Homo sapiens: one gene and its partners. The protein of the gene in region 1 purifies or fractionates together with the protein of each later gene. This does not show direct contact. Each region holds a gene or a part of one and is shown in the gene's direction. Other genes may lie near its edges. The genes, in order: RPUSD2, LZTFL1, AARSD1, TBCD and ME1.

Region 1 (3,173 bases):
GGCTCACGCCTGTAATCCCAACACTTTGGGAGGCCGAGGCGGGCAGATCACGAGGTCAGGAGATCGAGGTCATCCTGGCTAACACGGTGAAACCCCGTCTCTACTAAAAAAAAATACAAAAAATTAGCTGGGCGTGGTGGCGGGCACCTATAGTCCCAGCTACTCGGGAGGCTGAGGCAGGAGAATGGTGTGAACCCAAGAGGTGGAGCTTGCAGTGAGCCGAATCGCGCCACCGCACTCCAGCCTGGGTGACAGAGTGAGACTCTGTCTCAAAAAAAAAAAAAAAAACTTACCCTGGCATGGTGGCACATGCCTGTAGTCCCAGCTACTTGGGAGGCTGAGATAGGAGGATCACTTGGCCATGGGAGGTTGAGGCTGCAGTGAGCCATGAGCATGTCACTGCGTTCCAGCCTGAGCTATAGAACAAGACTCCGTCTCAAAGAAATAAATTAACATAAGAAAATAAAGTGCTGACAGGCTGAGCAAGGCTTTTAAGATTATGGGGAGAGCCTGCTTGGTGAAAAGATTCTAGATGTAGTTGGAAAAGTCTTGGGTAGAGGAGTTTAATGGTAATGATTGTTGTCCTGAGACTTGTAATTCTGGATCTGAATCATAATACATTTATTGAGTGCATGCTATATACCAGGCTTAGTATCAAGCACATTAGAGCCTAACTTACTGAATGCTTATCACAGCCCAATGAGGTAAATGCTTTTCTTTTCTTTTCTTTTTTTTTTTTTTTTTTTTTGAGATGGAGTTTCGCTCTTGTTGCCCAGTCTGGAGTGCAATGGTGTGATCCTGGCTCACTGCAACCTCCGCCTCCTGGGTTCAAGCAATTATCCTGCCTCAGCCTCCCAGGTAGCTGGGATGACTGGCATGCGCCACCACGCCTGGCTAATTTTGTATTTTTTAGTAGAGACGGGGTTTCTTCATGTTGGTCAGGCTGGTCTCGAACTTTCGACCTCAGGTGATCCACCCACCTCAGCTTCCCAAAGTGCTGGGATTACAGGCGTGAGCCACCTCACCCAGCTGGTAAATGCTTTTCTAATTTCACATTTTCTAGATGAGTTAGTAGGATTTAGAGGTTAAGTAATGTACCCAAGATCGCAAAACTGGCGAATGGTAGAGCTGGAGTTTGAATTTTCTGACACTGGTCCTTATCACTCCACAAAGAGTTTGGACTCCATGAATTTAGGCTTTGTACTGACTTTCTCCCTCTTCCCTCCTATGTAGCTGGAGAAGGAGTACGTGTGCCGGGTGGAAGGGGAGTTCCCCACTGAGGAAGTGACCTGTAAAGAACCCATCTTAGTGGTGTCTTACAAAGTAGGGGTGTGCCGTGTAGATCCCCGGGGCAAGCCCTGTGAGACAGTGTTCCAGAGGCTAAGCTACAATGGCCAGTCCAGTGTGGTACGGTGCCGGCCACTCACAGGCCGCACACACCAGATTCGAGTCCACCTTCAGTTCTTGGGCCATCCCATTCTCAACGACCCCATCTACAACTCAGTTGCCTGGGGTCCTTCTCGAGGCCGGGGCGGCTACATTCCCAAGACAAACGAGGAGTTGCTACGGGACCTGGTAGCAGAGCACCAGGCCAAACAGAGCCTGGATGTGCTAGATCTCTGTGAGGGTGACCTGTCCCCAGGACTCACAGACTCTACGGCCCCCTCCTCAGAGTTGGGCAAGGACGACCTGGAAGAGTTGGCTGCAGCTGCCCAGAAGATGGAGGAAGTAGCTGAGGCAGCCCCTCAGGAGTTGGACACAATAGCCTTGGCATCAGAGAAGGCAGTTGAAACAGATGTCATGAATCAAGAGACAGACCCACTCTGTGCAGAGTGCCGGCTGGTGCGACAGGATCCCTTGCCCCAAGACCTTGTGATGTTCCTACATGCCCTACGCTATAAAGGGCCAGGCTTTGAGTACTTTTCACCAATGCCTGCCTGGGCACAGGATGACTGGCAAAAGGACTGAGGGTGTGGCCAATGGAGGGATTGCTTCTTGGGTTGTGACAAGGATGGGCTATAGGGCAAGGGCTGACCCCATGGGCTAGTACTTGGGGTTTCTATAGGAATGAGGACGGGCTTCTAAAGAGACCTGCTCATACTTGCTACCTCCTTCCAGTGGGAATTTGGAGACTTTTTGGTTTGTAAATATATCCCTTTTTCTAACATCTTTGATGTCTGGTTTTCTTCCGGCTTCTTTTTTATTACTGATGTAAAATTCACATAACATAAAATTAACCACTTTAACTAGCCAGGCACAGTGGCTCATGGCTATAATCCTAGTACTTTGGGAGGTAGAAGTGAAAGGATCACTGGAGGCCAAGAGTTCAAGGTTAAAGTGAACTGTGATTGTGCTGCTGCACTCCAGAGCCTAGGTGACAGAGTGAGACCCTGTCTCTTAAAAAAAAAAAAAATTAACCAATTTAAGATGTACAGCGTAGTCACATTTAGTACATTCACAGTGTTGTACAACCATAACCTCATATATTTCCAAAACATTTTCATCACCCCAAAAGGAAACCTGTACCCATTAAGTAAGTGGTCACTTTCCACTCCCCTTCCACCAGCCTCTGGCAACCACTAATCTACTTTCTGTCTGTTTGGATTTGCCTGTTTATTCTGGACATTTTATATAAATGGAATGATAAAACATGTGACCTATGTCTCTGTTTCCCTTGGCATAATGTTTTCAAGGTTTATTCAACTTGTAGCATGTATCGGTACTTCATTCTTTTTTTATGGCAGAATAAGCTGTTGTATGGATATACCACGATTTGTCTATCTGTTCATCAGTTAATGGACATTTGGGTTGTTTCCACCATTTCATTATTGTGGATAGTGCTGCTGTGAACATTAAATATGTTTTCAGTTCTTTTGGGTATATACCTCACAGTGGAATTGCTGGGTCATATGGTAATTCTATGTTTAAATGTTTGAGAATCCACCAAACTTTTCCACAGCAGCTGAACCATTTTATATTGCCACCAGCAAGCATAGGGTTTCAATTTCTCTACATCTTCACCAACATTTGTTTTGTTTTGATTATAGTCATCCTAGTAGGAGTGAAGTGGCATCTCATTCTGGGTTGTTAGTCTTTTTGTTGTGGAGTGTAAGTGTTCTTTATATATTCTGGATGTGAGAGTCTTAGCAAAAAGACTAACAGCCCAACTTAAA
Region 2 (3,522 bases), on another chromosome or scaffold:
TCACGCCATTCTCCTGCCTCAGCCTCCGAGTAGCGCCTGCCACCACGCCCGGCTAATTTTTTGTATTTTTAGTAGAGATGGGGTTTCACCATGTTAGCCAGGTTGGTCTTGATCTCCTGATCTTGTGATACGCCCGCCTCGGCCTTCCAAAGTGCTGGGATTACAGGTGTGAGCCACCGTGCCCGGCCAAAAATGTAATAGTTTTATTGGGAAAGTAGAACTGATGTTCTAGAAATAGAGACCAGAGAATATTCTCCTGTGTGCTACAGGTGTCATACTGGGTAGCAGAGAAGACTCAGTTGTGTGTGGATAACAGTAGGTGAGAACAGGCTCTTGGGTAAAGGGGTACCTAAGCTGGGCCTTGAAGGATGAAGACCAGTTAAATTGTAGAGGAAAGAGAAGTGAGTGTGTTGGGCAGGAGAACAGAACAGGCAGTGGTCAGACAGGAGGCGGCATGACTTGAAACAGAGTGCAGTGCCCTCTGACTGGGCTGATGTGTTTATTTGAGTCTACTGAAAAATAACACAGATGATTCAAATGTTTGAGCTGTATAAGAACAAAAGTGTTTGGCCTCACCTCAGTCAGAAGCATCTGTGGGCTTGAGCATGGTACTGAAGTGAAGGAGTTCTCAGGATAAGGGGCAACAGTGTGCAGTGTAGGCTGAGAATAGACCCAGGATTTGCAGGACCAGCTAGGAGAAAGTTGGCAGGGAAGCGGGTCTTTGGAAAAAAATTTGAAAACAGAAAACAGAGGACTGAAAGAGGGAAGATGTGTCTGAGAAACTGAAAGAAAAGAAACTAGATGTCTTAGATCCAAAGCTGACTCACAGATACTGAGGCTGATAGGCTGGATGAAATTGGGATATTACCAAAATATCAGTAGTACATTTTTGAGCTATTATGTAATTTAAATTTAAAAATTAGATTTTTAAGTGAAACAAGTAATAATTTCAAATATTAAAATATTTTGGTTAATATAATAAAATTTGAATTTACTCACAAAGGAAATTTTAAGACTTCAAGAAGAGAATGAGAAATTGAAGTCAAGGTTGAAGACCATTGAAATACAGGTAACTGAGAAATGTTTTGACACAATTATTGAACTGCCTACAGATTAAATACTGAAAGTGTTTTGTTTAAACTTCACTATAGGCTACAAATGCACTGGATGAAAAGTCAAAACTAGAAAAAGCACTGCAAGATTTACAGCTTGATCAAGGAAATCAAAAGGTGAAACAAGTTTTAGCTACCTTTCTCACATTTTCTAAGTAGAATGAAGTTATAAACTTAAAATTAAGTCTTAGTTACTGCTCACTGTACCCCACCCCTGCTACTCCCTGAGACAAATGCCTCTATTGTCATGTGTTGGGACATTCTTGCCCCCAAAAGGCCTGGTGAGAACCAGTGACCTTCCCTCTGTCCATCCTCTAGGGCAGAGGGGACAGTACATAGCTCACACACCTGCAGTTTCCCTGGCATGCAAGATATTCTCACATTTATTTTTTAAGTTTTTCTACAATCTTCCTGGTATGCAAGATATTCTCACTTTTTTTTTTTAAGTTTCCCCTCTCACTTTGACATCCAATTACAGTGGAGGGGAAAGAAAATGAAAAGAAAAGTTTTTAATTGGTTTATATTTGGGTTTTATTATACTGAACATTACTTAAGTTTGCCTTTGATGAGTGTGACAAAATGATTATGAATCTGCAGATGCGTCTGTACCCGCCGGCACCATAGAGTACAATGAAATCCAGTGTTGTAGTTCTTCATGCTTGTCTGAATGTAATGACTGAATGTCACTCCGCCTGCGGGAAGTCATTGTATGTACAGTCTGTCTCCTGTGGACTTTCTGTTGAGTGTGCATGCTGCAGTATGATTTCCTGTGAGCAGGACCATTTGGGTAGATATTCAGTACAGCATTGGCTTTTCTAGTGGTCATACTCTCATTGCAAATGTCTGGTAAACAAACCCAAAATCTGCTTCACTGGGCTTTTGCTAATCTTTTCTCTATGAAAAATTTCAAACATACACAAAAGTAGAGAGAATAGTATAATGAACCCCCATGCACTCTTCACTCTATTTAGCAGTTACCAATGCATGGCCAGTCTGGTTTCATTTGTACCTCTACTTTCTTCTTCCCACCAGCCATGTTTTTTTGAAGCAAATCTCAGACGTTGAACCATTTTATCTGTAGATATTTTTAAAATAGGAGGATACTTCTTATATAGCTAATGATTTTCAACCATTATATGCCAATGACAATAGATTTATAAAAACACGAATGTTCCAGAACCGCTTTATAATTTCTCCTAAGTCAAACAATTGCAAACACATGTGGCTGATGAATTTGTTTAAAAGCTTTTTGGGGCTTTGCTCCAATTTTACTTTAAGATTTTGGACACAAGAACAACCAGTGAATACGTGCTTTTATTAGTTGCAATGAAAATCTTTTTTTCAAAGACCAGATTTCAAAAATGAGGAAAGATTTTTTTTTTCTTCTGTTGAAAGTACTTTTTTTTTTTTTTTTTTTTTTTCTTTTGAGACAGGGCCTTATTCTGTTTCCCATGCTGGAGTGCGGTGGTGCAACCATGGCTCACTACAACCTTGACCTCACCGGCTCAAGCGATCCTCCCACCTCAGCCTCCCAAGTGGTTGGGACCACAGGCATGTGCCACCATGCCTGGCTAATTTTTTATATTTTTTGTAGAGACGGGGTCTTGCTCTGTTGCCCAGGCTGGTCTCAATTTCCTGGGCTCAAGTAGTCCTCCTCCCTTGGCCTCCTAAAGTATTGGAATTACAGGCGTGAGAGCCACTTGAAAGTACTAAGTATTTCTTCATCTACATATTAACCAATTGTAGACCATTTTACTGTCTTATCAGTACAAATGTTTTTTCTGTCATGAATCTTATCCAGTCAAAAACAAGATCCAGGAAGAGAGAAGATCCAGTGCCTGTCTTATGCTATAGTTGTCAAAGTATGCAAAAATTACACATATCTCATGAATATAAAAAACTTAAAATCTTAAAAATTTAGAAAACCATGTAATCAGTAATTGTGCTCTCATATTATTTCCTTGTAAATAATGACTAAAACATATGTCTATTAAGTTTTTGGTATAAATTATATTACTTTTATCATTTTTTCTATCATTTTGAAGAATTCAAACTTCTTTGAGGATTTTTTTAAATTTGGCTTTTCAAAATGAAACCTGTTTGCCATCTCAACCCTGGTACACACATCTTGGATGGAAATACCAGCAGTTCACAAATCATATTTTATGTATTTGGAATTCAGTGGCTACTGAGTGTCGGCTGTGTGCAAGACACCACGTACCCAGGGCTGACAATGGACTGGCCTGCTGGTGACTCTGAAGGGGCTGGCACTTACCTAGGCTGGCAAGGGAGGCTGGCATGCACACAAAACATACATCATTTTTTTCATCTCCTATGATGTTGAATCACCATTCTAAAACAGTTATTTTTAGAATATCAACATGAAATTACATGCATGCATTTATTTTTC
Region 3 (2,237 bases), on another chromosome or scaffold:
AGAGGCGGCCAGGCAGAGGGAAACCTGGTGGTTTAGGCAGTGGCAGGGAAAGGATGTGTGGTGGGGAAAAGTTTGCAAGAGTGAAACCATGAAAGGCATTTTCTGCTTAGCCAGGATCAGCAGTCTTCTGCTGCCTTCTTAATGTTTCACCTAAGTTCCCATAGTTGCTCTCAAAAAGTTTCTTGGCCCTCGTGGGCCAGTGTGGAGGGGCTGTATCATCATTCATCAGGAGCGTCACTTGGTGGTTTAGGGGGAAATAATCTATTCTTAAGATTGAAGAGAGTGCAGGATTTGGGGGGTTGACTCTACATCCTTCAGTATCAGAGCTTATCTCCTTGTCTTACCTCCTAGGAGACCCTCCTGTTCTTAACTGTGGGCGATGAGAAAGGTGGTGGACTCTTCTTACTGGCAGGGCCACCTGCGTCTGTGGAGACCCTGGGGCCCAGGTAATTCTTTGTGGACTCTCTTGCACATGTAGTAGAGCCTGTATCCTACAAATACATTCCTTTACTGAGTCAAAGGACCATCACATCTGCGATCTCATTTAATTCACATCATGGGCATGTGAGGTGGGCTGAGCAGAGATAATTATTACTACTGTCATTTCCAGTTTGACAGTTGAAGGTCTTTTGGCTCCACATCTCACATGTATGTTTTTGTTTTTGTTTTTATGAAATGTGTTTGTTTTTGTTTTTTGAGATGGAGTCTTAGTCTGTTGCCCAGCCTGGAGAGCCCAGGCTACTCAGCTCACTGCAGCCACCACCTCCCAGGTTTAAGCAATTTTCCTGCCTCAGCCACTCAAGTAGCTGGGATTACAGGTGCACATAACCATACCCGTCCAATTTTTTGTATTTTTAGTACAGATAGGGTTTCACCATGTTGGCCAGGCTGGTCTCGAACTCCTGACCTCAAGTGATCCACCTGCCTTGCCCTCCCAAAGTGCTGGGATTACAGGTGCTCACCCTGCTCTCTGGAGATTAACATAATTTATCTAGCCCAATTCATAGACACTGATGTTGTTTCCAGTTATTCACTCTTATGTGATGATGGTACATATATCTTTGTGCATATGTGCAAGTGTTTTTTTGAGACAAAGTTTCACTCTTGTTGCCCAGGCTGGAGTGCAATGGCACCATCTCGGCTCACTGCAACCTCTGCCTCCCGGGTTCAAGCAATTCTCCTGTCTCAGCTTCCTGAGTAGCTGGGATTATGGCGCATACCACCATGCCCGGCTGATTTTTTTATTTTTAGTAGAGACGGGGTTTCATCCTATTGGTCAGGCTGGTCTTGAAGTCCTGACCTCAGGTGATCCACCCACTTTGGCCTCCCAAAGTGCTGGGATTACAGGTGTGAGCCACCATGCCCAGCCTATGTGCAAGTGTTTTCAAGAAAGATTCCTAGAAGTCATCTACTCTTCTTATCCCTCTCCCAGTCCCTGGAAAAAGACTCAGAGCTGCCCTTGTTTTTTTTTGTGACTTTTCCCTCAAAGTCTCCCTGACTATACCTCTGTTCCCCAGGGTGGCTGAGGTCCTGGAAGGCAAAGGAGCAGGGAAGAAAGGCCGTTTTCAGGGCAAGGCCACCAAGATGAGCCGGCGGATGGAGGCGCAGGCGCTTCTCCAGGACTACATCAGCACGCAGAGTGCTAAGGAGTGAGGGCTTAGGGCACTCACCTCCTGTTTCCACAGGAATCTTTTGGTCAATAAAATAGATTGACTCAGAATGGTTGCGCTACCACTTGTATTTATATGACTAATTCGTACTGTATACTCCATTGTGCTTGTGTGGTTACTTTCCGTTTATAAATAGATAATTTTCTAATTTAGTTCATGCACTGTAATGTTTAGAAGGTGGTGGATTAATTTATACCAAACCTTGTGCTTTTGCACTCAGTTGGATAAGAAATGAACATCTGATCAGCTGAGTCCACTGCTCCCATAATTTTGTTATAATCCACAAAGGCACATGGCTTTTTCCCGCCCCTACCGCCCCACCCCCTGAGATGGACTCTTGCTTTGTTGCCCAGGCTGGATATAGTGGTGTGATCTCAGCTCACTGCAACCTCTGCCTCCCGGGTTGAAGGGATTTTCCTGCCTCAGCCTCCAGAGTAGCCAGGATTACAGGTGTGTGCCACCATGCCTGGCTGATTTTTTTGTTTTTGTTTTTTGTTTTTGTTTGAGATGGAGTCTCGCTCTGTCACCAGGCTGGAGTGCGGTGGTGCGATCTTGGCTCACTGCAAC
Region 4 (3,522 bases), on another chromosome or scaffold:
CTCGGAGGACAGAGGTGGCCTCTCCAGGGCTTCCGCGAGGTTTTCTGGTTTGGGGAGGAGTGTGTGTCTGCTCCTAAACAAACACGTGGTCCCAGGAGAGGAACCGGGAGCAGCTGGGCTGTCTTCTCAACATGCGTTGAGAGAATGGCCATCTTAACTACTGCTCTGGAGACCCGTTTTTACAATGATTTTTTTAAAAAAAAACACCAAGGTGCATTCTGGACCAGATTCTAAAATAATTGGCTTTAGGACTGAAGAAGCCAGGTGTCCCGAGCGGGGCGAGGCCTCCTCCAGCGAGGCTGGGTCGGGGTGGCCTCCTTTCCTCACATCAGGGAGGGAGGAACTAGCAGGGTGGGCCTGGGGGCTTCTCCTATCGTTTAATCCCCTTTCTGTTAAAAAAAAAAATCCTTAGAATTTAAAGAGAATATTTTAAATTAGAAACGAAAAACATGCCCCAGATATCTCCACAGCATTGCTAGAATTTTTATTTCGCATCAACAGCTAAATTAAAACCTGGAAAACCCTTGTCAGCCCCTCCTTGGCCTCGCTTGGTCTGTCCTCCCGCAGTCCCTGCGCTGGGCGTGGTCCTTCCCGAGGGGCACCCCTTGTTGGGAAGGAACCGTCCTCCTGCGATTCCGGAAAGGGCTCAGGCTCGAGGCTCTGCTGGAGAACGTGCTCCTGTGACGTCTTTTCTGCCCTCAGCCTGGCTATGGATGTCGGGGGTGAGGTCTCCTTTCCCTGACTGCGGCCATGGAAGCTTGACGCGGGACCTCCGCACACCTGAGGTTCTCCGGTGGGCACTCGAGAGACTCACGGCTCTCCCTCTCCTCACAGGGACGCGGAGCTTGCAGTGGTGAGAGAGCAGCGCAACCGTCTGTGTGACCTTCTGGGCGTACCCAGGCCCCAGCTGGTGCCCCAGGTAACCCTGTCACCTTCACAGCATGAGGTGCCTGTGCTTCCCTGAGCTCTGGAATGTTCTGGGGCCAGCGGCTGTGCTTAGCTTCTGCCAGCACGTCCACACGGCCCGTTCCCTCGTCTCATGTCAGGACCCCTGGGATTACGGGACCAGCAGAGCTGCCTTCTCTGGCCACTGCCCACACCTGTGGGCCCCTGTGGCATCCAGGCCACTTGCTCTGGGGCGTTTGGGGGGCCGGGGAGTGGGTGGAGCTGGCACCAGCTTGATCCAGGCTCCTCATGCCTGGCCCTGGGGTCTGTTTGTGCTCCAAGTGCCAAGAGTGCCACCCTACCCCTCCTCATCTGCTTCCCATGAGTGGGGCCGGGGCTGGGTGAGAGGCCCCCAGAAGCTGCCCCTGTGCACCTCACCAGCCCGTCACTCTTCTAAAGTAACAAAAACAAGTACCTCAGTTCTCTCGGGGGCTGGGGCCCAGGGTTGCTGTGCTGTCTCTCTAGTTACCAGGGTTGGCTCCTTCCTCTCAGCCTCCTTCCGGCAGGAGGTTATATCTGAGAGGGAGGAGGAGAACCATGTCTAGATACATGGGGGCAGTGGGGATGGGCTGAGCATCAGGACACAGCCTCCCCCATTTCTGTGTGTGTAAAGGCTGAACTCAACAGCAGACTTTGGAATTAAATGTGCTTTTTACATTTTTATTAGGAAAAATTTCAAACGTGTGAATGCAGGTTAAGAGCAGTGCAGTGAACCTCCCTTCCCGCTCCCCAGATGGGGTGCCCTTCCGAGGACACGTTAGTCATGAGCACCTGTCAGCCACATAGCTCAGGCTGCCGGGTGTGTGGGAAACGGCACAAATGGTTTCCTGCAGGAACCGTGTCAGTCCCCACACAGGGCCCAGAGGGGTGAGGGTCCCCTGGCTGGGAATGGTGTGTGTTGGAGCTGACCAGCCTGAGCTTGTCTTGTCTCTTCTTCAGCCTGGTGCCTGCTGAAGCCAGTCCTGGAGCCCATACCTCACCCCTGCCTGGTGAGGATGTCTTGTTCCTGAGGGAGGCCGGTGTGGAAAGCCTCGCACAGTGGTGCCTCCAGCTGTTGAAGGGTAGCGCTGGCCCTTGGAGGCTGGCACTAGCTGACAGCTTTTCCTCTCTGCACCTGCGCTCTGGTGACTTGGGGTGGACGCCTCTGCCTTCACTTGAACACAAATGTGCTTCCTATAAAATCATGTACCAAGAAGTTCCTGCCTTTTGTCTCTGAGCCTGATGTGTGTAGGGGTGATGGAAAGGCTCACTGCCCAGGGGTCAGCCAGAGGGGAGGTGGGCTGCACTCCTCCTGCCTGGAGACCAGGCCCCCTTCTTGCCTGGTGCTGTCCCTGCTGTGGGAGACGTCTGGCCACAGGCAGTGCCCCACCCAGTCTTGGAGAGAGATGAATGTTAAATCAGAGGTTCAAATGCTAGAGAACTGAGAAGCCCTGGTGGCAGGCATGGTCTGGAGTGCTGGGCAGATGCTGTTTCTGGGCCCGTCTGCCTGGTGGGGGTGCTGTCCTCCCCCCTGTGCACACGTGAGCATCGTGCATGTGGCCCCTCTGCAGTGCAGGAGTCACTGATTGATGGGTGTGCCGACCAGCAGCTTCACAAATGTCTGCTGCAAGGGGAATCGTCAGAGTCCAATGTGTGCCTCTACAGTAATGTCGGAAATAAATACCATTCTTGAAATAATTACACTGTCTTAGGAGAGCCTGGGCAGAGTCCACACTTGGGTTTTTAGGCAAAGGGCAGGAGGCTACCTTTGTCTCTGTGTCTGAGCTCGTGCTGATCCATCCCAAAGCTGGTGAGGGGAACGTGTATAAAAATTTCACTGTGGTAGCAACCCACACCCATCTCTGGGACCTGTGCTGTGCTCATAGGGCTTGAGGTGCAGAACCACGGCCAGCAGCACCAAAGCAGCCCCAGGTGTGGCCACTCAGAGGCCCAAGGGCTTGGGTGAGCAACCCTTTCCCTATGTGAGGAGCCCAGGGGTGCCATGTGCGTGGTGTAGATTAGGGTGGCTCCCTGGCCTGCTCTCAGGTGGGGATGGGGCCTGGACACAGGAACATGGGCAGGCCGAGAACTGGGAGGTGCCACCGCATCTGTGAGGCTTGTGAGGTCACCAGGACCACAAGACCAGGACTGTGACAGTCCGTGCTGTGTGTTTAGCAGACAGCTCTTCACGGGATGTGTGTGACGACCTGGCCACACAGGAGTGTGGGGTTAACACACTACTGTTGTTGTGTTTGACCTGGTGGCCAATGGTCTTTATACCCTAAAAGAGCCTTGGGTTACATTTTTACGAGATTTAAATATTTTATTCCAACCTGTGTAATAGGGGTCTCCTCCTCCTTGAACTGTCCCGATTGGCTGGGGTCACGTGGTGAGGGTCCTGGGTGACCAGGCCTAGCCTTGGCCACATGAGTCCACACAGTGGAAAAGGCTTGGCTCCTGTGGTCGGCACACACGAGACTCTGGTTGCGCCTGCTGGGTGTGGAACAGGCGCACCATCGCCATGCCTGCAGCTCACAAAGCTCCTGCTGGCCTGGGATGCACTGAGGATGGAAGGAACAAGTGGCTTCTGAGAAAAAC
Region 5 (3,522 bases), on another chromosome or scaffold:
ATTTACTAACTTGTCTTTTTATTTTCCTTTTTTTTTTTTTGAGACAGAGCCTTGTTCTGTTGCCCAGGCTGGAGTGCAGTGGTGTGATCTAGGTTCACTGCAAACTCTACCTCCTGGGTTCAAGTGACTCTTGTGCCTCAGCCTCCTGAGTAGCTGAGATTACAGGCATGTGCCACTATGCCCAGCTAATTTCTATATTTTAATAGAGACAGGGTTTGGTCATGTTGGCCACGCTGGTCTCAAACTCCTGACCTTAAGTGATCTGCCCGCCTCGGCCTCCCAAAAGTGTTGGGATTACAGGCGTGAGCTACTGCACCCGGCCATAAGTTGTATTTTTTTTTCTTATTTCTTTGATTGTCATAGGGCAGGAGTCACAATATTTAGTACAGTATTTTGCTCAGTAGACATTAAATAAATGTTTACTTAATGAATGAGCCATGTCTTTATTTTTGTCTTTAAACAGAACTCAGCTTTTAAAGTGATAGTTTAGGCATTGTCCTCTTTAAAGTAATTTTGTGAAAATAAATTCACATTGAAGTCTAAAGTTTAGTTCACTTCCTATGCCATTATATAGTATGCTGAAATGTAGTCAGAAAAGTTGAAATGTGGTTTAAGCTTGATAATCTCATGAAATTTTAATTACTTGCTGGATAACCTAAGGGAGGTGCTTCATCTTGGTAAAATCAAAGTTAACAGTAGATATGGTATGAATTCAAAAATTTTCAAAAAACTTAAGAGAATTAGGATCTTCATTTGTTATGATTCATGTATGAGTCTAAGCCTTACTATTTGTTTGTATTAAAATATGCATCATTCAAGGTAGGATTTCATCAAAACAATTGGGGAAGTAAATCTGCCTCATGTTTATGAGATTTAATATTTTTCTGTGCATAGCCCTAACTATTTTTGAGATGCTTATCTTTGCCGGTTTTATATAAATGTGTCTAATTTAATGTTTAATGTTTTTTATTTTCAGGGATATGGTCTAATATAGATGAGTTGTGTTTTAAATTTTTTTCTCAATAATTTTCATGTGACTAATAATATTTCATAAATTGCCCTTCAAAATTAAAATTCTACACATAATAAAATAATCATGCCTATTTTTTATTCTCAATTAGTTTATTTCCCTTTGCAATGGTAGAAAACACTAATTGATAGTTCTATCATAATTGTGCTTACATGGTTTCTATATCTTAAGAGTAAATAATAACATGACCCATAAGTAAATCTCCAAACAACACCACTCTTCCATATTTTAGGCAGTTTGGTTCAGTATAAGTCATGTTTAAGAGTTACGTTCCAGTAGAAGATAGTGTTTTATCGAAGTTAATTTGGGTCATCATTACTAACTTTTACATCTAAAAAATCAGCTTTTGTAGCTGTTTGTTTCCTGGCATGACAAGACCTAGTTGGGTGTGTTGTAAGAAAGAGAGAGAAATAAGATTCATGGCAATGAAGGAAAAGTACCCTAAACCTCTTTTTCTTCAATGTAAACTAGACCTGAATGAATTATTCAGAAAATTTCATCCAACCACATTCTCTAGAGTTGCCTCTGCAACGTGAGAAACTGATTTATTATTTAACATAGAATCCCACTTATGTGAAAGTCATATACAGCCAGGTACCTCTGTATATGTTTGTTACCTTGCTGCAGTGGAAACAACAGTAGTAGTATAGAATATCACAATAACAAAATGTGTGCTGTAATAAGAAAGGTGAGTTTGATATGGTAACTCTTGAGACAGGTGATATGGAGTATAAAAAATATTGAAGAAAGGAATGGATTTGAGATTTTGCCTTTTTCAGCTCTGATTTCCCTCTAACTTTTGGACAGGTAGGGGAGAATGTGATGTAAAGGAATGGACATTCTAAAACTTTGTGCCTAGAAGAAATGAGCCCAAGTCCCAAGCCTCCCAATTAGCTGTGTGATATAGCATCTGGGAAGGTCCTCCTTGCTACATCATCCCATGGCGGAAGGCAAGATGGTAGAGGGTGAGAAGGAGCAAGAGAGGGCTGAACTTGCTTTTATAAAGGAACCCACTCTTGCTTGCAATAACGAACCCACTCCTGCATTAACAATACTAGTCACCTCATAAAAATCCCACCTCTTAACACAGTTGCATTGGGGATTAACAACACATGGACTTTTGGGGACAGATTGAAACCATAGTAGGAAGTCAGGTAATATAATAATGAATAATGTTCTCTAAAAACATGAGAATATAACTGCTAGAGCTTTTCTACTAATATACAGACCCTGGATTTAAAAACACTGGTATTATTTTTTCAATAATCAGGTAATGGTTGAGTAAGAACATCGGCAAAAATACTTGTGTGTTTGATATGGTTTGTCTGTGTTCCTACCCAAATCTCATCTTGAATTGTAGTTCCCATAATCCCCATGTGTTGTGGGAGGGACCCAGTGGGAGGTAATTGAATGATGGGGGTGGTTACCCCCATGCTGCTGTTCTCCTGGTAGTGAGTGAGTTCTCACGAGATCTGATGGTTTTATAAGGGGCTTTCCCCCCTTTTGCTCATTCTTTTTCCTGCCGCCATGTGAAGAAGGATGTGTTTGTTTCCCCTCCCGCCATGATTGTATGTTTCCTGAGGCCTACCCAGCCATGCTGAACTGTGAGTCAATTAAGCATCTTTCTTTATAAATTTCCCAGTCTTGGATATGTCTTTATTAGTAGCATGAGAACAGACTAATACAGTATTCATACCAATGTTAGTAATTATGTTATCAGGCTAGTTGTGATGGCTCACACCTGTAATGCCAGATGTGAGCCACCTGGGAGGCCGAGGTAGGAGGATCACTTGAGCCCAGGAGTTCAAGACCAGACTGGGAAACATAGCAAAATCCCATCTTTACAAAAAAGAAAAAAAAATACAAAAAGCTGGGCATGGTGGTGTGCACCTGTAGTCTCAGCTACTTGAGTGGCTGAGGTGGGAGGCCACAGTGAGCCATGATCACACCCACTGCACTCCAGCCTGTATGACAGATTGAGACCTTGTCTCAGAAAAACAAAACAAAGCAAAACAAAACAAAAGAATAAAACCTTAGAGATCCAGAGGCTGAAGGAGTTCTAAGACTTCCATTGTACTATTAGGCATTGGCCCTTTAAGCTTAGAATATATTTAAATACATTTAAATTGTCTATTCAGAGTCTTAAGATGGCCATCTAGTAAGTCCAGGAGAGAAGCCATAGAATAAAATCAGCCCTCCAGACACCTTGATTTTGGACTTCTATCCTTCAGAACTTTGATAAAATAAATTTATGTTTAAGCCACCCAGTGTGTGACGCTTTGTTGTGGCAGCCCTAGCAAACTAATGATATACTTCTGTAATTGAAGCAAAATTTCATAATACAGCACTTTCCCTTGCTTTGTTTAGTAGACATTTTCTGGACTTTGACAGGAACATGTAGGTGAGAAGCAGTAATGATCTAATCAGTCAGGTTTGCTTGTAGCCATTGCCAATTTTTGACAATCTCTGTCTTTTGATTTTTGTGTTTAGGC

What was found.
Region 2: the proteins of RPUSD2 (region 1) and LZTFL1 fractionate together in Homo sapiens (co-fractionation; one large-scale study listed by BioGRID). This does not show direct contact.
Region 3: the proteins of RPUSD2 (region 1) and AARSD1 fractionate together in Homo sapiens (co-fractionation; one large-scale study listed by BioGRID). This does not show direct contact.
Region 4: the proteins of RPUSD2 (region 1) and TBCD fractionate together in Homo sapiens (co-fractionation; one large-scale study listed by BioGRID). This does not show direct contact.
Region 5: the proteins of RPUSD2 (region 1) and ME1 fractionate together in Homo sapiens (co-fractionation; one large-scale study listed by BioGRID). This does not show direct contact.

What each region holds. Positions count from the first base shown.
Region 1 is NC_000015.10:40,572,294-40,575,466, forward strand, and holds the end of RPUSD2 (pseudouridylate synthase RPUSD2), read left to right. Parts: intron 1-1,233; coding exon 1,234-1,968; 3' UTR 1,969-2,656; downstream 2,657-3,173. UniProt on the Homo sapiens protein: Pseudouridine synthase that catalyzes pseudouridylation of mRNAs.
Region 2 is NC_000003.12:45,828,620-45,832,141, reverse strand, and holds part of LZTFL1 (leucine zipper transcription factor-like protein 1), read left to right. Parts: intron 1-1,003; coding exon 1,004-1,069; intron 1,070-1,151; coding exon 1,152-1,229; intron 1,230-3,522. UniProt on the Homo sapiens protein: Regulates ciliary localization of the BBSome complex. Together with the BBSome complex, controls SMO ciliary trafficking and contributes to the sonic hedgehog (SHH) pathway regulation. May play a role in neurite outgrowth. May have tumor suppressor function.
Region 3 is NC_000017.11:42,950,009-42,952,245, reverse strand, and holds the end of AARSD1 (alanyl-tRNA editing protein Aarsd1), read left to right. Parts: intron 1-351; coding exon 352-446; intron 447-1,517; coding exon 1,518-1,653; 3' UTR 1,654-1,720; downstream 1,721-2,237. Other genes in the region: PTGES3L-AARSD1 protein, read left to right, coding at 352-446, 1,518-1,653. UniProt on the Homo sapiens protein: Functions in trans to edit the amino acid moiety from incorrectly charged tRNA(Ala).
Region 4 is NC_000017.11:82,940,565-82,944,086, forward strand, and holds part of TBCD (tubulin-specific chaperone D), read left to right. Parts: intron 1-834; coding exon 835-919; intron 920-925; exon of another isoform or gene 926-941; coding exon of another isoform or gene 942-1,490; exon of another isoform or gene 1,491-1,513; intron 1,514-1,584; exon of another isoform or gene 1,585-1,884; coding exon 1,885-1,899; 3' UTR 1,900-3,522. Other genes in the region: uncharacterized protein LOC124904095, read left to right, coding at 942-1,490.
Region 5 is NC_000006.12:83,424,530-83,428,051, reverse strand, and holds part of ME1 (NADP-dependent malic enzyme), read left to right. Parts: intron 1-3,522. UniProt on the Homo sapiens protein: Catalyzes the oxidative decarboxylation of (S)-malate in the presence of NADP(+) and divalent metal ions, and decarboxylation of oxaloacetate.